Regions from separate parts of the Homo sapiens genome. Here all the other regions are linked to region 4. Evidence: fine-mapped expression QTL. A gene starts in region 4. Each other region holds a variant in brackets. All regions are shown on one strand. Distances are from middle to middle.

Region 1 (4,121 bases), 48 kb after region 4:
CTATAAAAATCAAAAATTAAAAAACCCACAAATTTATTATCTCATGGTTCTAGAGGTCAGGAGCCGAAAATAGGTCTCACTGGGCTAAAATTAAGGTGTTGGTAGGGCTGCATTCCTTCTAGAGGTTCTAGGTGAAACTGCCATTTGCTTGCTTTTCCATTTCTAGAGGCTGCCTGTATTCCTTGGTTCATGGCCCCTTTCTGTCCTTAAAGCTAGCAGTGGCTGGTTGAAACTTTCTCACATGGCATCACTCGAACACAGACTCTTCTTCGGCTTCCCTCTTTCACTGTAAGGAGCCTTATGGTTTCACTGGGCCCATCTGGGTAATCCGGGATACTCTCCCTAGTTTAAAATCAAATGACAAGTAAACTTCATTTCCTACACAACCTTAATTCTCCTTTTGCATATTGACAGTTTCCAGGGATTAGGACATGAGCATCTTTGGGGACATTATTCTGTCTACCATAGCTACCTATCTCATAGGGCTATTGAGAGGATTCAATGAGTTTTAGGCTATAAAGCACTTTGCACAATGCTTAGCATGATGTAAATAATAAATGTTATCCTTATTGGTGTGAGTATTAGCTTATGTCTTCAGTCTCTCCCTCTTTACCCTTCATACTGGACTCAGAGTTGTATTTCAGGAGACCGGTTTCATCCTATTGTCCCCATCTTTAGTTCTTACTCTGTGTCCTCCTCTGTTCTCCCGCTACACTGTGTTTTCTATATATCAGTTTACCATTCTCGCTCTCTTTCTTTTTTTTTTCTCTTTTTTTGTGATGGAGTCTCACTCTGTCCCCCAGGCTGGAGGGCAGTGGTGCAATCTCAGCTCACTGCAACCTTTGCCTCCCTGGTTCAAGTGATTCTCCTGCCTCAGCCTCCTGAGTAGCTGGGATTACAGGCATGCACCATCACGCCTGGCTAATTTTTTGTATTTTTAGTAGAGACAGGGTTTCACTGTATTAGCCAGCATGGCTCGATCTCCTGACTTCATGCCCCACCACCCGCCTTGGCCTCCCAAAGTTCTGGGATTACAGGAGTGAACCACCGTGCCGGGCCTCTCTCTCTGTTTTTTTTTTTTTTTTTTTTCTGAGACACAGTCTCACTCTGTTGCCCAGGCTGGAGTGCAGTGGTGCTATCTCAGCTCACTGCAACCTCTGCCTCTGCCTCCTGGTTCAAGCAATTCTGCCTCAGCCTCCCGAGTAGCTGGGACTACAGGCGCACTCCACTGCGCCCAGCTTATTTTGTATTTTTGTAGAGACAGAGTCTCAAACATTCTGACCTCAAGTGATCAGCCCACCTCGGCCTCCCGAAGTGTTGGGATTACGGGCGTGAGCCACCACACCCGGCCTCAACTTACTATTCTCTAATTGTTGACTTACCTGTCTTCCACCAGAATGTAAGTGATTGTGTCAAAGTATGGTGCATGAACCAGCAACATTGGCGTCACTTGGAAGGTTGTTAGAAATGCAAAATCTAAGCCCCTGCACCCCACCCCCAACCCCACTTTTGCATCAAATGAATCAAAATTTGCTTTTTAACAAGATCTCCAAGTGATTCACATGTCCGTTAAAGTTTGAAAAATATTGTTCTGAAATATAACTGCCTGATAAATTGTAGGCACTCAATAAATGTTTATTGAATAAAATAAAAATTACACCAGGCACTTGTGTTAGATGGGAGAAGCACAGAAATAACAGGCATGGTTTTCCACAGCTCGTTGAATGATTCTGCTCTTATATTTCTTCATGTCTTTGTATAGCCTACATGATGGTCATCTCAGAATTGTTTAAAGGTGCAAGCTTGAGCTCCTATGAAATTACAAAGAGGCATCACATAGTTCAGATAGGCAAGGAATTTTTAATCTGTTTTGCTTACCACCATATCCTAACACCTGGGATAATGCCAGGCATATAAGCAGATGCTTCATAAATATTGTTGAATGAGTGAATCCGTGTGTTTTTTGTTTGTTTGTTTGTTTGTTTGAGATGGAGTCTCGTTCTGTCGCTCAGGCTAGGGTGCAGTGGCACGATCTTGGCTCACTGCAACCTCCACCTCCTGGGTTCAAGCGATTCTCCTGCCTCAGCCTGCCAAATATCTGGGATTACAGGTGCCTGCCACTGCACCTGGCTAATTTTTGTATTTTTAGTAGAGATGGGGGTTTCAACATGTTGGC[C/A]AGGCTGGTCTCGAACTCCTGACCTTGTGATCCACCTGCTTCAGTCTCCCAAAGTGCTGGTATTACAGGTATGAGCCACTGCGCCTGGCTGGCCATGTGTTTCTTTTTCTCCCAGTGGGAAACTTCACCACAAGGGGGACCCATTTGCAGCTCAAATCCATTCAAGAAGGTATTTCTTTCACCAAAAAGCCTCAAGATATACCATGCTTTTCTCCTTGTTCCACCACAGGAGACTGCTAATCACTAAGAACAAACAGGCAGCTGCTCTGGAAAGTAAATGTTTAAATAAGAAAGAGGGAGAGAAAGCTGCAGGGTTTGTCACCAAAGAGAGAATGTGGGAGTTCAGTCAGGCTGGTGGGAAAAATTTTAAGATGAAATTATAGGAATTAAACACAAACCCTCTTAGAAGGCCTGGGGGTTTGTGTAAAGTGTTTGGCTGAAGACAGCTGAACTCCCTTAAAAGCGTAGGGTGTAGATACATAGGAATATAGAGTAGTTTATCTAAATAGCTTGTTTACTCATGTGGTCCTAAGACCAACCTTTAATCAACCACGGGTGCATAATTTCTGTCTACTGGTGGATCGGCAACCAGGTCAATTACCCTCTAACAGTGTTTACTCAAGACCTTTGTCATTTAATCCATACTGAATAAATGTGAGCTTTGTTGGCTGAACGGGGCCACGGCTGCTACTCTTTACAGCACCTTCCTTGGTATCTGTGAGGGGCCCGGACCCTTAGCCAGACTGACAAGCAGAATATATGTGTCAGTGTACGTTATTCATCTGTCATTGGGTCAGTGTCTGTAGGATGGACCCCCGCAAGAGAAGCCATTTGCTGGCCAACAATTCACATAGTAAGCAGGAGAATTCTTCATGGCAAAACTATTGGCAAAGTCTCCGTTATGAAAGTGTCCCTGGAATATACATTGAAACAGGTATTAAAAGTACAGGTTCTGGTCCAAGAAAACAGGGCAGGTTGTACTGGGATGAAAACAGCATAAGACTCAGAAGAGTGGATCAGCAGATCATAAACAGTGAAAGAAGATTTGAAATCTGGTGTAACAGTTCCAGTGGCTAAGACTTTTACCAGTTCCTTGGTGATGAGAAAATGGAAATTAATGCCAAACCAATCTCAGTAGATATGGAACTGTGTGCCTGCTACTGGAGCTGTGCAGTAAACTCTACATGGTTCTCATGCCATAGTCATTCTTTTTGTTGTTGTTGTTTTGTTCTTTTTTTTTTTTTTTTTTTTAGATAGAAAGCGATTTGCCCACTTTGACCTCCCAAAGTGCTGGGATTATAGGCGTGAGCCACTGTGCCTGGCCCCATAGTCACTCTTAATGAATTGTTTGCTGTTGTCCTCAAGCCCTGAATTAAACTGTACCTACAAGTATCGGCCTGGGTGAACACAGGTGACAGATGCTCAATGCTGAGATACAGGATAACTCCCTGTCCTCACTGGTTTAATGATGTTTGTTTTTCTCTAAGAATGTATTTGCAATATGTCTGCATATCCGTTCTCTGCTTAGAGAACACTGTGTCTTGACTCTCAGCTCTAAGTTCACTTTTATATCTTCTTTTACAGCCAGCATAAATGTCACCCTTTCCCAAGTCTTTCCTGACTCTCCCAAGGAGTTATTTTGACACTATCTCTGCCATCCCATAGCCTTTGTACTTACCTCTCTTATAATACAGTTACTTATTTACCTGATCATCTCTCTAGATAAACTGCCAACTACTACAGCTATAGGCTGCACCTGATTCTCCTTTAATCTTCCTCCTGACTCCCAGAAATCACCAGCATGTAGTAGGCACCTGTAAATGCTCGTAAGTAGACCTTGGTCTCATCACCAGGACAGGCAGCCAAGCCTCACTGGTTCTTGGAAGATGTTAGTTAAGGGACAGTTGACTTGCTGTGGGCAAACATCTGGCCTTTAATTATTTAG
Region 2 (4,121 bases), 59 kb before region 4:
AACAGAAAAACAGAACCCATATAGGAAAGGACAACAAAGACTGGTCTTGAAATGACTAAGATATTGCAATTAGCATGTGAGAATTTTAAAGCAGCTATTCAAGAAGAACTTTTCTTGGGGAAACACATACATGGCTAAAACGAAAACCAACACTAACCATCTCTATTAATCCTCCAAGCTCTTCATTTGTGGATTATGATTTACAAGAATTTGAGAAAAAAACCATAGCATTAAACACAAGGTCCAAGATTAATAAACCCAAAAAACTGAGCCCAGAGAAAACAGATAATTTAGGGAGCAGAGGAGAACTTGAAAAAATTATTAGTATCCTTAAAGATTTTCAAGAGGAGATTGCACTGATAAAATAATGAGGCTGCCAGGTGTGGTGGCATGTGCCTGTAATCTCAGCTGTTTGGGAGGCTGAGGCAGGAGGATCCCTTGAGCCTAGGAGTTTGAGGCTGCAGTGAGCTGTGATACTGCCATTGCACTCCAGCTGGGGCAACAGAGTGAGACCCCATTTCTGAAAACAGACAAACAAAAAACAGCTACGGTGAAAAAAAGAACAGTCAGTAAATACCAAAGAAAAGAATACTCGTAAGTAAAACAGGAATAATGGATTTGCTGACGACCAAGTTGATGTTCTGGAAAACGAAATTTACTGGAATGTAGAGAAATAAAATAAATGGTGGAAAATATGAGAGAAAACTCAAGGCATGGAGGATAGACCCAAGAAATTCAAGTTCCAGAACACAATTTTTCTTAGTTGGAGAAAGACAAGTGTCTTTAGATGGAAAAAAATCATATCAGCCATACAGAATTAGACAGAAAACAAACAAAAACCCAAAATACCCATGCCTAAACACAACCTGGTGAAATTTCAGAACTCTAAGCTAAAGAGAATATCTTAAAAGAATTAGAAAAAGCAAAACAGATTACTTACATTGGAATGAGAATCAGACTGATAGACTTCTCATCAGCAATCCTGTATGCTGGAAGACAGCAGAATACCGCCTTCAAAGTTTTGGTAGAAAATGATTTTCAGGGGGAGGAGCCAAGATGGCCGAATAGGAACAGCTCCCGTCTACAGCTCCCAGCGTGAGCGACGCAGAATACGGGTGATTTCTGCATTTCCATCTGAGGTACCGGGTTCATCTCCTAGGGAGTGCCAGACAGTGGGCGCAGGCCAGTGGGTGCGCGCACCGTGCGCGAACCGAAGCAGGGCGAGGGCCTCACTCGGGAAGCGCAAGGGGTCAGGGAGTTCCCTTTCCTAGTCAAAGAAAGGGGTGACGGACGCACCTGGAAAATTGGGTCACTCCCACCCGAATACTGCGCTTTTCCGACAGGCTTAAAACACGGCGCACCACGAGATTATAACCCGCACCTGGCTCGGAGGGTCCTACGCCCGCCCACGGAGTCTCGCTGATTGCTAGCACAGCAGTCTAAGATCAAACTGCAAGGCGGCAGCGAGGCTGGGGGAGGGGCGCCCGCCATTGCCCAGGCTTGCTTAGGTAAACAAAGCAGCAGGGAAGCTCGAACTGGGTGGAGCCCACCACAGCTCAAGGAGGCCTGCCTGCCTCTGTAGGCTCCACCTCTGGGGCCAGGGCACAGACAAACAAAAAGACAGCAGTAACCTCTGCAGACTTAAATGTCCCTGTCTGACAGCTTTGAAGAGAGCAGTGGTTCTCCCAGCACGCAGCTGGAGATCTGAGAACGGGCAGACTGCCTCCTCAAGTGGGTCCCTGACCCCTGACCCCCAAGCAGCCTAACTGGGAGGCACCCCCCAGCAGGGACACACTGACACCTCACACGGCAGGGTATTCCAACAGACCTGCAGCTGAGGGTCCTGTCTGTTAGAAGGAAAACTAACAAACAGAAAGGACATCCACACCAAAAACCCATCTGTACATCACCATCATCAAAGACCAAAAGTAGATAAAACCACAAAGATGGGGAAAAAACAGA[A/C]CAGAAAAACTGGAAACTCTAAAAAGCAGAGCGGCTCTCCTCCTCCAAAGGAACGCAGTTCCTCACCAGCAACGGAACAAAGCTGGATGGAGAATGACTTTGACGAGCTGAGAGAAGAAGGCTTCAGAAGATCAAATTACCCTGAGCTACGGAAGGACATTCAGACCAAAGGCAAAGAAGTTGAAAACTTTGAAAAAAATTTAGAAGAATGTATAACTAGAATAACCAATACAGAGAAGTGCTTAAAGGAGCTGATGGAGCTGAAAACCAAGGCTCGAGAACTACGTGAAGAATGCAGAAGCCTCAGGAGCTGATGCGATCAACTGGAAGAAAGGGTATCAGCAATGGAAGATGAAATGAATGAAATGAAGTGAGAAGGGAAGTTTAGAGAAAAAAGAATAAAAAGAAATGAGCAAAGACTCCAAGAAATATGGGACTATGTGAAAAGACCAAATCTACGTCTGACTGGTGTACCTGCAAGTGATGGGGAGAATGGAACCAAGTTGGAAAACACTCTGCAGGATATTATCCAGGAGAACTTCCCCAATCTAGCAAGGCAGGCCAACATTCAGATTCAGGAAATACAGAGAACGCCACAAAGATACTCCTCGAGAAGAGCAACTCCAAGACACATAATTGTCAGATTCACCAAAGTTGAAATGAAGGAAAAAATGTTAAGGGCAGCCAGAGAGAAAGGTCGGGTTACCCTCAAAGGGAAGCCCATCAGACTAACAGCGGATCTCTCGGCAGAAACCCTACAAGCCAGAAGAGAGTGGGGGCCAATATTCAACATTCTTAAAGAAAAGAATTTTCAACCCAGAATTTCATATCCAGCCAAACTAAGCTTCATAAGTGAAGGAGAAATAAAATACTTTACAGACAAGCAAATGCTGAGAGATTTTGTCACCACCAGGCCTGCCCTAAAAGAGCTCCTGAAGGAAGTGCTAAACATGGAAAGGAACAACCGGTACCAGCCGCTGCAAAATCATGCCAAAATGTAAAGACCATCGAGACTAGGAAGAAACTGCATCAACTAACGAGCAAAATCACCAGCTAACATCATAATGACAGGATCAGATTCACACATAACAATATTAACTTTAAATGTAAATGGACTAAATGCTCCAATTAAAAGACACAGACTGGCAAATTGGATAAAGAGTCAAGACCCATCAGTGTGCTGTGTTCAGGAAATCCATCTCACGTGCAGAGACACACATAGGCTCAAAATAAAAGGATGGAGGAAGATCTACCAAGCAAATGGAAAACAAAAAAAGGCAGGGGTTGCAATCCTAGTCTCTGATAAAACAGACTTTAAACCAACAAAGATCAAAAGAGACCAAGAAGGCCATTACATAATGGTAAAGGGATCAATTCAACAACAAGAGCTAACTATCCTAAATATATATGCACCCAATACAGGAGCACCCAGATTCATAAAGCAAGTCCTGAGTGACCTACAAAGAGACTTAGACTCCCACACATTAATAATGGGAGACTTTAACACCCCACTGTCAACATTAGACAGATCAACGAGACAGAAAGTCAACAAGGATACCCAGGAATTGAACTCAGCTCTGCACCAAGTGGACCTAATAGACATCTACAGAACTCTCCACCCCAAATCAACAGAATATATATTTTTTTCAGCACCACACCACACCTATTCCAAAATTGACCACATAGTTGGAAGTAAAGCACTCCTAAGCAAACGTAAAAGAACAGAAATTATAACAAACTGTCTCTCAGACCACAGTGCAATCAAACTAGACCTCAGGATTAAGAAACTCACTCCAAACCACTTAACTACATGGAAACTGAACAACCTGCTCCTGAATGACTACTGGGTACATAACGAAATAAAGGCAGAAATAAAGTTGTTCTTTGAAACCAACGAGAACAAAGACACAACATACCAGAATCTCTGGGATGCATTCAAAGCAGTGTGTAGAGGGAAATTTATAGCACTAAATGCCCACAAGAGAAAGCAGGAAAGATCCAAAATTGACACCCTAACATCACAATTAAAAGAACTAGAAAAGCAAGAGCAAACACATTCAAAAGCTAGCAGAAGGCAAGAAATAACTAAAATCAGAGCAGAACTGAAGGAAATAGAGACACAAAAAACCCTTCAAAAAATCAATGAATCCAGGAGCTGG
Region 3 (4,121 bases), 36 kb after region 4:
GGGATGGAGGAGATTTGAAGTTGTGTGTGTATTCAAGTATTAATTTTGTATGATGATAAATAAAGAGTACAGAGGTGGGCACATCAGCTCATGCCCATAATACTGGCGCTTTGGTAGGTCAAGCCAGGAGGATTGATTGAGCCCAAGATTTGGAGGCCAGCCTGGGCAACATAGCAAGACCCTGTTCCTAAATTTTTTTTTTTTTAAATTAGCCAAGCATGGTGGTGTATGCCTATAGTCTCAGCTACTCTGGAGACTGAGGCAGAAGAGGATCACTTGAGCCCAGGAGTTGGAGACCAGCCTGGGCAATATAGCAAGACCTTGCCTTTTAAAAAGTGGGGGAAAAAAAAAAAAAAGGAAGGCATTTTGTTCCTGACTACCTGCCTCACCCATTACTTTCATGTTCCTGGAATTTTTGATATGAAGAACAATGTATAGCCTATCAGTAGCTTATGTGATTTTAATATAAAATACTTGGTAAGCAACTTAGGAACTGCTTCTTCTTTTTCTTTAGAAACCTACTTGTAACTGTAGCTAATCAGAGCATATATTCAGGGCAACTTAAATCTATGTTCACAAGTTGCAGTCTTCAAACTTGGTCCAAATAAAATCTCTACTTACGTTAAGTTGGCCTCAATTTTTTCCTTTAGGTTGACATTCCTTTGATCTTTTAATATGTTGAATTTTTAAATTTCTTCATTGAATCCTTGATCATTTTGCATTTTTTTTAATAGATGTTTTCTTTTTCCATTATTTTATTTTGGATTTTTAAATAGTGTTCATAAAATATTGGTCTATAGTTTTCTGTGTTATTATTTTCAGATTTTGGTGTCAAAGTTATACTGGTTTTGTAAATACTGATTGAATAGCCTTTTTCCCTTATGCTTTGGAACTATTTTAATAACACTGGCAAGCTTTGTTCCTTGTAGATTTGACCGAAGTTGATTGAAGCCCTCTGTGAAATTGTCTGAATTTAGTGTTTTTAAAAGGGTAACCATTTGATCACTTTCTCAGTTTCTTTGTAGTATTTTGTGTCCTTGGTTTTGTCCATCTCTTTTGCTGTCATTTTTGGTAAATTAACTTACATTTAGTATAAACTTGTAATTTATATTAAAATAATCTATTTCATCCAGTTTTTATAATCTTTTAAAATTCCCTTTATGTGCATGTATATTTTTCTCACTTCTAAATGTGTTCATTTTGTATTGCCTTTTAAAAATTATATTAGCCAGTTAAGCTACCTATTTCATTGTTTTTCTAAGATTCAGTTCTTAGATGTATTTATTAGTCCTGTCTCTCTGTTTTTTTTCTGTAATTCATGGTTTTTTACTTTCATCTTTCATGTTTCTTTTGGTTTACTTTAGCTTTCTTCTTCTAAAATGTTTTGATTTAAAAGCTTAATTTAAAAGCTTTGTCAACAAAAAGAGTCAAACTCTATAAAATATTTGAAGAGATTTATTCTGAGCCAAATATGAGTGATCATGACCTGTGACACAGCCCTCAGCCCTCAGAAGGTTGGGGTGCAGCTTGGTTTTATACATTTTAGGCGGGCATGAGACATCAATCAAATACATGTTAGAAATACATTGGTTTGATCCAGAAAAATGATACAACTCAAAGTCAGGGGTGTGGGATTCCAGGCTATAGGTAAATTTAAACATTTTCTGGTTGACAATTGGCTGAGTTTGTCTAAAGATCTGAGACTGACAGAAAGGAAATATTTGGGTTAAGATAAAAGATTATGGAGGCCAAGGTTCCTTTGAAGTCTTATTGTGGCTGCCCTTAGAGATAATAGATGGCAAATATTTCATATTCAGATCTTTAAAAGGTGCTAAACTTTTAGTTAATCTCTAGGATTGGGAGGGCCTGGAAGAAAAAGATCTAGTTACGTTAACAGAGATTCTTTACAGACACAAATTTTCCCCCACAAAGGACAGCTTTGCAGGGCCATTTCAAGATATGGCAAATAAACATGTTTTGGGGTGAAATATTTCAATTTTCTTCCTTGTCTCATAATGTTATGCTAGAGTCAGGTTGGAAAGCCACGATATATAGGGTTAAATAAAACCCATCTGATGAGAACTTATGGTTTATAGGGCATGACTCCTCAGACTCTTTAGATGGGAATTTGGGCAAGATAAAAAAATCAGTTTAGTCCTCAACTCTTTATTGGTTAATATTAAAAATGTTTAAAGTTATGAATTTTTTCTCATGGTTTTTGAGGTTTCCCATAGTTTCTCATGCATTGTGATTTTATTGTTATTTTCTAAATTATTTACAATTCTTTTCTTTTTCCATGTCAGATGGGTAATGTGCGGATGTGGTAAAAAGGTTTAAAAAAGGCTGCCGGGCACGGTGGCTCACGCCTGTAATCCCAGCACTTTGAGAGGCCGGGGCGGGTGGATCACGAGGTCAAGGGTTCAAGACCAGCCTGACCAAGATGGTGAAACCCCGTCTC[T/C]ACTAAAAATACAAAAAATTAGCCAGGCATGGTGGCGGGTGCCTGTAATCCCAGCTACTTGGGAGGCTGAGGCAGAGAAATGCTTGAACTCGGGAGGCGGAGGTTGCAGAGAGCCGAGATCACGCCACTGCACTCCAGCCTGGGAGACGGAGCGAGACTCTGTCTCAAAAAACAAACAAACAAAAACAAAAAAAAAGAAAGGCACATCTCACACATGAACGTGAAAACCCAGTAATCACTGTTATGAACTACAAAAGGATCTATTTACTTTACTTGATTTGAATTTTTTCTGAAACAAATTCAGAGAGAGTTTTAAAGTTTTTTGGCTGTAGGACACTTTTTTTATTTTTATTAATTTTCAAAGATAAGCTACAGTCTTACTGTAATTAAATTTTTACCTATTTCTCATTACATTTTTAGAAGTTGTTGACTTATGGATTTAGATGCTGCATAAAAATTTACAATAATTAAATCTTCATTGTAGACAGGGGCATTTATCTTGATATAGTGACCATTTTTATAATTTTTTTTCTCCTACCAAAGTGGCAAACTTTCCCCGGTTAACACATAGATAAGCCTTTTCTTTGTATTATTATATATATATATATATATTCTAATCTTCCTCCCATTTTGAGACTGTCCCTCATCAAAACAACCTACATCCCATAGTGGTATGGTTTAAATGTACCCTTTAAAACTCACATTGAAACTTAATCCCCAGTGTGACAGTATTGAGAGGTGGGGTCTTTAAGACATGATTGAATTCTGGGTGTGGTGGCTCACACCTGTAATCCCAGCACCTTGGGGGGCTGAGGTGGGAGGATCACCTGAGGTCAGGAGTTCAAGACCAGCCTGACCAACAGGGTGAAACCCCATCTCTACTAAAAATACAAAATTAGCTGGGTAAGATGGTTCATGCCTGTAATCTCAGCTACTCGGGAGGCTGAGGCAGGAGAATCGTTTGAACCTGGGAAGCAGAGGTTGCAGTGAGCCGAGATTGCACCGAGCCGAGATCGCACCATTGCACTCCAGCCTAGGCAACAAGAGCAAAACTCTGTCTCAGAGAAAACAAAAAAAGACATGATTGCATGAGGACTCTCCCTCAAGAATGGAATAATCCATCCATGGACTAATGGGTTAATGGATTATTATGTTATCATGGGAGGGGAACTGGTGGCTTTATAAGAAGAGAAAGAGAGACCTGAGCTCATGCTCAGCACCTTTGCCATGTGATATCCCGTGCTGCCTCGGGACTCTGTAAAGAAGTCCCCAGCAAGAAGGCTGTCACTAGATGCAACCCCTCGACCTTGGACTTAGCCTCCTGATCTGTAGAAAATAAATTCCTTTTCTTTATAAAATACACAGTTTCAGGTATTCTAAGCAACACAAAATGAACTAAGATGTAATAAACAACCAGATGAATTTATAATTTCTACAGTTTGATCCACAGCTTCAATTACAATGTTAGAGTTTCAGATGTTTTTAGATCCTTTCTTAGCACAAAGGAAAATGTAGAATGTGGAGGAACATATTCCTCATAAAACCAACCAATAAAACTTACAAACGTATAACTTGGACAACAGAGGGAGCAGAAGGCTGCTAGCTAGAGGTTTTCTTAAAGAATCCCCTGGGGAGCTGGTAAGAAATTCATGCTCCTGGAATC
Region 4 (4,121 bases):
CTATAAAATAGGAATAATAAGTTTTACAAAACTTTATAGAATGGTTGCCAGATTTGGCAAATAAACATACAGGATGCCCAAATATTGCATGGGACTAAAAAATTATTTGCTATTTATCTGAAGTTCAAATTCAAATGGTCATCCCATATTTTATTTAACGACCTTATTTTAGAGGATTGTTGACAGGCTTATGTGATACAATTCATATTGAACACTCAGAACAGTGCCTTGTAAGCACTCAATTGCAGTAAGTACTTGCAGTAAGCACTCAATTGACTATTGGTTATTATCATTAATATTACCACTTTAGTTATGGGCATCTTTTAAAACAATTCTGGTTCTCCTAATAATTTTCTAAGAGTTATCTCATTTGTATAAATTAACCACTTATAGTCAAATATTCTCTTTAGTCAATAAAAATAAGAAACTGATGTTTATTGGCTTAAGTACTTAGATGGACGTTGTTTTATAAGGGCCAAGAAAGATGTATTAAATGGCCCTTCATCTACCATTAATGGAAGGAAATCATGGTAGGAAAAAATAGTTAACACTGGCTTTGTGCAATATTTGTTAATTTTTTTAGTTCTAAGAGAGCTAGCTTTGTATTTTGGCTTTCCTCAGGAAAGAATTAACTTGCAGTCCCTGAATATAGGAAACCCACAACAATTTGGTAGTCAAAGGAAGTTAGCCTGGGCTAACTTGGGTAAAACATGGAGGAGGGAATACATCATGTACAGTGAGCTTGGAGTAACTTGGATTTCTCAGAGGACTGCCACTCAACCAGCTTGTCACAGGTTTACAGTATTACAAGCACGGCAGATGCAGTACAATTTCTACAGTCCCTAAACTTGCCTCATGCACATGTTAGCAAGAAAACTACTGATAGAAGTACAAGCCTAGCTCACATGGGTTTCCCTAAAGAAGGCACACAGTATTATATATTTTTTTTCTGCACAGAAGTCTGACAGCTGGTGAATCATTTGTAAATAAATTGATAGTTTGTTTCACTGGGTTTTCTGTCATTGTTGACTCATGACCTAGTAAGGATTTACTGGACTATAAGAATAATGATTCAAATAAGCACATGGGTATCATATTTTCTGTAGAAAGTAAAGAGCTTTGAATATCCCATGCTGAAAAAAAAAAAAGCCTGAACTTTAATTTTTAAGGAAACAGTGACTTTCCTTCAAATTATAAAAATAATTTTTGAGTATTCTTGACAGAAAGAAAATTTACCTACTTATCAGCCCACTTTCACTATCTCAAATAAAAAAATGTAGGGAAGAGAAAGAAAACGAGAGAGGAAAGGCAAGAAGCAGCTTAGAGGCTTAGAGGCAGAGAAAGAGTGAAACAGAAGGAAAAAAAGATACAGAAACAGAAAATCAGACTCTTAGGTAACATGATGAATCCCCTTCACTTTGCAAACCCTCTTTCCATCTATTTTCAAACAATGTCAACAGTATATTTTCTTTTCTTGATATTATGCATCAGCCACCCCCCACCTTTTTTCATAACTGGTCACATGTGCCAATGATTTTAATCGTCAACTAAATCTATATATCAGAAAATCATCCTAAAATTCCAAATTTAGATTCACTTTTATGCTTCAAGGTTGTTTACAAATAGTTGTTCTAATTTCCTGATAAACAAAGGTGAAAGGACTACTTAATTCAGAAAATGACTGTTTTTTGGCTTGCAAACAAATAATGATTAAATTGAATGAAGCCAGCTCTTGGTACATAAACAGCGCCAGCTGTGGTTTCTTCTGGACTGGTGTGGCTGTCAAAAGGAATCTGAATTCAAGGCAGTTGTAAAGTAAGTAAATAAATAACATCAGCAAAAGCAAATAAAAAGCAACCCCTAAAAAAACAGCGACCAAAAAATATTTTTGTTAGGACACGTTAGGTCTTCATTAAGAGGAACTTGCAAAACTTGATTATTCACTTTCTGAGTTTGAACAGAGCCTGGTCTCTGGGAAACAATCCAAGGATAAGATGAAACCTGACGCTTGCCTTATCAGACTTTGCTGGGAACACAGTTTTAAGGAAAAAGCAATGAGAAAAGTCTACTTACCAAAGTCACAAACTTCAACTCCTTGGCTAGTACACTTCGGTCTAGCCAGAAAAAAAGCAGAAACAAGAAGCCAAGGCTAAGGCTTGCTGCCCTGGCCAGGAGGAGGGGTGCAGCTCTCATGTTGAGGAGAGCTGTTTCTGGCAGGAGTTAGGAGGAACTGCTACCACTTCAAAAGCCTGTAGAGGGGAAGCTATTTAATTAAGGGATTGAAAGGGAAGGAGGAGCCACACTCATAAGTAGTAAAGTTTCCAGGAAGCGTAGGGCAGGTTTGGTATGTAAATAATGTCATGTAAATTTTGAGCTGAGAGAGATCACAGTTTCCCCATTTAAGTTAGGACACCAAGGCCAAGAGCGGGGAAAGCTGTTGATCAAGGTCACAGAGCATGTTAGCAGACATTTCTATCCTTGTTTTCAGTTTACTTTTATCTTTGTTTTTTGTTTTTTTTTTTTTGAGACAGAGTCTTGCTCTGTCATCCAGGCTGGAGCACAGTGGCACAATCTCAGCTCACTGCAAACTCCGCCTCCCAGGTTCAAGCAATTCTCCTGCTTCAGTCTTCCTGAGTAGCTGGGATTACAGGCGTGCACCACCACACCCGGCGAATTTTTGTATTTTTAGTAGAGACGGGGTTTCACCATGTTGGTTAGGCTGGTCTCCAACTCCTAACCGCATGATCCGCCTGCCTTGGCCTCCCAAAGTGCTGAGATTACAGGCATGAGCCACTGTGCCAAGCCAGTTTACTTTTATCTTTTCTTTAGATAGGGTATGATACAGCGTTGGATTTGTGGCTGTCACTTGGGAAAGGGATCTACCCTGACTTTAGAAACCTTAGACCAGTGATTCTTAATCTGTTGGGAGTCCAAAGTTATAGGACTGAAATCTGGAAGGAAATACAGGTGTTGACATATTTGGGGCCTATTTCCATGCCAAACATGGCTACTTTTTCAAAAACTCTCATGTAGCCTATAGAGGTATTTTTAAATTAAAGAAGAAAAGTAACAGCAAGTTTATTTTGAAAAATTTTAGGCTGGGCGTGGTGGCTCATGTCTGTAATCCCAGCACTTTGGGAGGCCGAGGTGGGCAGATCACTTGAGGTCAGGAGTTAAGACCAGCCTGGCCAGCATGGTGAAACCCCATCTCTACTAAAAATACAAAAAAAAAAAATTAGCCTGGCGTGGTGGCACATGCCTATAGTCCCAGCTACCTGGGAGGCGAGGCAGGAGAGTCACTTGAACCCAGGAGGTGGAGGTTGCAGTGAGCCGAGATTGTGCCACTGCACTCCAGCCTGAGTGACAGAGCAAGACTCCATCTCAAAACACAGCAAAACAAACAAACAACAACAAAAAACAAACAAAAGAAAAATTTTAGTCACACCTTAAGACAATTGGACATTACCTGTGGTATCTCAAAATTAGATTGGAGGTCCCTTTCCAAACCTGACAGAGTTTTTTAAGAAAGCAAAAAGCCCAAACCTACAATTCTATATTATTAGTCATCAACTTTGGCCATAAGCCTTAAATTTTGAGTGAGTTACATCCTTGCCTCTCCAGCTATGATCTCACTGGGGACACTACAAAAGGCGATCCAGACTGATGGAACTTTGCTTTCCATTTTCCCCAACCTGTCAGTTCCATCATAGGCTAAAACAATACAAACTTGAGGTGCACATTGAGATTTTGCAAGATTTGGGGGCAGAGCTGCCTGTCATGATATTTCTATCATAATGGCAGAGGGAGAACAATGGTTTACCCGCAACCTGTTTCCTGGTACATTGCGCTTACCTGTGGCAGGAGGATTGTGTTCTTATGTGATCATAGGATGCCCTGGAATGTGGTATATGGGAGAACTGTTCCTTCTTCCGGCAGTAGGAAACATGCGCAAATAGGCTGGGCATGGTGGCTCACGCCTGTAATCCCACCACTTTGGGAGGCTGAGGTGGGCAGATCACTTGAGATCAGGAGTTCGAGACCAGCCTGGTCAATGTGGTGAAACCCCATATCTACTAAAAATACAAAAATTAGCCAGGTGTGGTGGTGGGAGCCTGTAATCC
Region 5 (4,121 bases), 56 kb after region 4:
GCTGGTCTCAGACTTGGGATCCAGTGATTCTCATGTGTCTGCCTCCTCAAATGCTAGAATTACAGTTGTGAGCCACCAGGGGAAGGAGTTCTTTAGGTAGGCAAGAGGGTGACATTAATTGAGGATTGAGAGGGGGTAGAATTTTAGGCAGAGATAGGGGAATTAGCAGAGGAATGGAGTTGTGTCCAGAGTGTGTGTGTGTGTGTGTGTGAGTGTGAGGGTGTGTGATATGTATGTGGAGTGTGTGGGGTGTGTATGTGCAGTGTGTGTGTGGTGTGTATGTATGAGCATGTGTGTGGTATGTGTGGGGTATATGTTTCTGTGTGTGAGTGGGTATGGTGTCTGTGATGTATATGTGTGTGTGGTATGTGTGGGTGTGTGTGGTGTATGCGGTGTGTGTGACAGTGTGTATGGTATGTGTGTATATGATGTGTATGTAGAGTATATGTGGTATGGATGGAGTGTTTGCATGGCGTGTGTGTGGTGTGTGTGAGTGGGTATGATGTGTATGTAAAGTGTGGTGTGTGAGTGTGTGTGAAGGAGGTTGAGCAGATAAGAAGGGGACAAAATGTTGGGGATGGGGTGAGGGGTGGTGAGTATCCTGTGCTGTCAGGGGTTTGGACTTGATCTTGTAGGCCCCAGGAGAGCAGTAACAGGTTTGTTTAGGAAAGGTCACCTTGCCAGCTGTGGGAAGGATAGTCAATTAGGAAGTCCCTGTGGTAATATTAGTGCTGGTGATGACCCACTTCGCACTCCCTCTCCAGAAAAATCTCTGTGCTCTTGGGGCCTTGAAAAGCAGACCAATACCTCTGATATCATTCTCTAAATTTAACCTTTTCAGACTTGAGTGGGCATACAATCTTCTTGTTGAAATGCAATTATGGTTCCATAGGTCTGGGTGGGGTCTGAGTCTCTGTAGTTCTAATGAGCTCCGGGTGATGCCAATGCTGTTGCTCCACAGGCATGCTTTGGAGAGGAAGGCTTCACCCTGTTTGCAAACTACAATAGCCTGGATTATAAAGAAATATTGATGTCTGGTGCCACCCTAGATATTCTGATGCAATAGGTGTAGGTGTAGGGTTTAGGCGGGGCACTAAGAATTTTAAAAGTGCCCCAGGTGAGGGATCAGTTTTTTTTTTTGTTTGGTTGTTTTGTTTGTTTTAAATTTTTCAATCCCTTCATGATTTTAAAAAATACACTAAAAATAAATTAATAGAAAAATAAAATTGAGAAAAAAGACTTGCAAATATAAGCCAGAATTTAAAAAAATTATCGTTAGATTCAACAGATGTGAAATGACTGTGTCAAGTTGCTATACAGGTTCTGTTTGCTTACTCTTCATTTCTGCACTTTTCTTGTTAGCGACCAGTAACAAAGAGTAGACCTACAACAGTCCTTGGACTACACTTTGAGCATCAGTACACCACACTCATAGCTGAAACCACCAGCCATTCAAGGAGGGCAGAGAATAGGGGATTCATCATTCCAGGGGGGCAGGAGCAATTGCTTTACCTTGGGATGGCTACTGGTGGCTAGAATGGGCCTGATGGAATGAGATTTCTTGCTCACTGTGTTTCCAGATTCTATAGTACCTGGTGAGATCTAAGGGCTCTTAATGATTCCCTGGTGGTGGTGGTGGTGGTGGTGGTGGCGGTGGCTTCACCTGTCAGAAAAATCATTATGGAAGAAGAAGGAGGGAAACTTTTTCTAGCTTCTTGGGTCTTTCTCTATAAATCTTTTCTCTTTGCCTTCAAGTTTTGTTGTGGTATAGTTATTGGGTTTAAACTTCCTCCTTGAGAATGGTGACAGCTACCTTCTCC[C/T]ACGCTATATTTTGCAATAAGCCTTGTTATTTTGTACAGGTTATTTCTTTTCCATGCCTTAAAATGCCAGCTAAAACCCTTAGGACAATGTTACATAGAAGTAGCGAAAGTCATTGGGTGCCCATGAGTTGTTTCTGACTTTACAAAAAATGCATTCAATGTGTTACCACATTTTTTTCTTTTTCTTTTGCTGGGGGTGGGAATTTGTGGGGGTTACTCTTTATTAGGTTAAAGAAATTCTCCCCTATTCTCGATATGTTAGGAGTTTTTCTTCTTTTTTAAAATGATGAGTATTATTGAGGTTCTTTTTAATCTATTGAGATGATGACATAAGTTCATAAATGTATTAAGTGGAGAATTAAAAGATTTTCTAGACTGGGCGCGGTGGCTCACGCCTGTAATCCCAGCACTTTGGGAGGCTGAGGTGGGCAGATCACGAGGTCAGGAGATCAAGACCATCCTGGCTAACATGGTGAAACCCCGTCTCTACTAAAAATACAAAAAATTAGCTGGGCGTGGTGGTGGGCGCCTGTGGTCCCAGCTACTCGGGAGGCTGAGGCAGGAGAATGGCATGAACCCGGAGGCAGAGCCGAGATCATGCCACTGCACTCCAGCCTGGGTGACAGAGCAAGACTCTGTCTCAAAAAAAAAAAATAAATAAAAATAAAAATAAATAAAAAAATAAAAAATAAAAAAAGATTTTCTAGTGTTATGCCTTCTAATGAAAGTATTTCTGGGAAAATCCATTTTATTCATGTTATATTTTATACACATCACTGGATTTGCTTTACTTTGTGTTTAGCATTTTTTGCTTAGTTAGTAATAAGAGTGTCCTGTGACTTTTCTCATTCATACTTCATCATATTGGACATCAAAGTTATGCTAAACTCATCAAATGATTCTCTGTTTACCTGAAAGAGTTTATAGAAGACTAGAATTACTTGTTTAATGAATGTTTCGTAGAGCTTGCTGGTTAAACCCTTGAAGCCCGAAGTTTTTGTGGGCAGATTTTTAACTAATGACTCAAATTCTATAATTGTTGTAGTGTTCACTTATTTTTGTAGTGTGAATACTCCCACCCTGGCCAACATCAAGCTACCAACAGTTTAACAATCAGCTCACAAAATTCTTTAATAATTGACTTAATAATTGACTCCTGGATTCCTGTCTGAGATGGATGCATGACACCCATTGATAGGGTTGTATCTTCTGGATTTTTAATTGAAATTGCATTATATTTTTCTACAAATTTATTCATTTCTTTGTTTTCAAATTTATTGGCATAAAATTATACTATTCTCTCGGTATCTTTTAAATCTCGACATTATATTTAGCTATGTCCTTTACATTTTTAATATTATTTTTTTTCCTTGCTCAATCATGCAAATAGTTTGTCAACTTTTGTCTTTGTTGGTCCTCTCTACTGTATATGTGCTTTATATTGCATTAATTTCTACTTATCTTTATTTTTTCTTCCATCTACTTTTGCTGGGTTTATTCTGTTTCTCTTTTCTTAACTTCTTAAGTGGGATGCTCTGTCTGCCAAGGTCCTGGCAAGAAATAGATGGCATAGTCAAAGGAAGACTTAAGAGAGTGTAAGGAGGAGAGTATTTACATAAATGTGTCAGGGTTAAAGAAACCAATAAGAGATGAGTTACCCAGAACTAGCAACAGTAGTAAGCCTCATTACTCAGTTGTGAGGGGGAAGGTAGACTCTTTCCAGACCTTTGATAAAGGGGCTGCTCAAAAAAGCCACGACCTTGGGCCTCTGCTAAAACCATGGCTTTAAGTAAGGAGGGAGCAGATATATAAAAATCCTTATCCCTCTTTCTAATCTCTTATGTCCTGTGAGTGTCACCCATTGAGTAAACCCAAGTGGAAGTCAGCAGGAAAGTAGCTGGGATGATGCAGTCTTTACAGGTAAGCCTTTTGGAAGCACAGAACAATGGACAGAAGGGCAACTAATAGATCTACAGGGGTGCCCTGAAAGTGATCAGCAGAGAGACTTAGCTATTGATTTCAATCTCTCCCGTCCTCTCATTGGTATATTTAAGGTTATATATTTCCTTTTAAGTACTATTTTAGCTGCATTTCATAAATTATAAAATGAGGTAGTCCATTATTATTCATTGCCGAATATATTGTAAGTCCTATTAAGATTTCTTCTATAACCCATGAAGTATTTAGATGTATGTTTATTTCCATACATAAGCGGTTTTGTGTGTTTGGTATTTATTTCTAACTTAACCACATTGTGATCTGAGCTAGTGTGTCTGACACTAATTCCTGGGAAGTTTTTGA

The links. PIP is the estimated chance that this variant, and not a neighbour inherited with it, causes the effect. A credible set is the group of variants that fine-mapping cannot tell apart.
Region 1: its variant is the best candidate, but not a certain one, in a credible set for the expression of ACP3 in whole blood (TOPMed, PIP 0.53).
Region 2: its variant is the best candidate, but not a certain one, in a credible set for the expression of ACP3 in whole blood (TOPMed, PIP 0.85).
Region 3: its variant is the best candidate, but not a certain one, in a credible set for the expression of ACP3 in sun-exposed skin (GTEx, PIP 0.64).
Region 5: its variant is the best candidate, but not a certain one, in a credible set for the expression of ACP3 in whole blood (TOPMed, PIP 0.81).

The regions. Positions count from the first base shown.
Region 1 is chr3:132,267,346-132,271,466 of GRCh38, reverse strand. No RefSeq gene overlaps it. Among named protein-coding and RNA genes, the nearest start is that of TRC-GCA9-1, 38 kb to the right of the region's middle. The variant C/A (reference allele first, on the strand shown) is at 2,177.
Region 2 is chr3:132,374,182-132,378,302 of GRCh38, reverse strand. LOC124909435 (a long non-coding RNA gene) reads right to left here and starts at 1,514. Exons shown (of 2, transcript XR_007096093.1): 1 at 941-1,514. The variant A/C (reference allele first, on the strand shown) is at 1,963.
Region 3 is chr3:132,279,215-132,283,335 of GRCh38, reverse strand. It overlaps the pseudogene LOC124906374. Among named protein-coding and RNA genes, the nearest start is that of ACP3, 36 kb to the left of the region's middle. The variant T/C (reference allele first, on the strand shown) is at 2,459.
Region 4 is chr3:132,315,529-132,319,649 of GRCh38, reverse strand. It overlaps ACP3 (acid phosphatase 3), which reads right to left and starts at 2,243. Exons shown (of 10, transcript NM_001099.5): 1 at 2,074-2,243. The coding sequence starts at 2,193.
Region 5 is chr3:132,259,403-132,263,523 of GRCh38, reverse strand. No RefSeq gene overlaps it. Among named protein-coding and RNA genes, the nearest start is that of TRC-GCA9-1, 30 kb to the right of the region's middle. The variant C/T (reference allele first, on the strand shown) is at 1,821.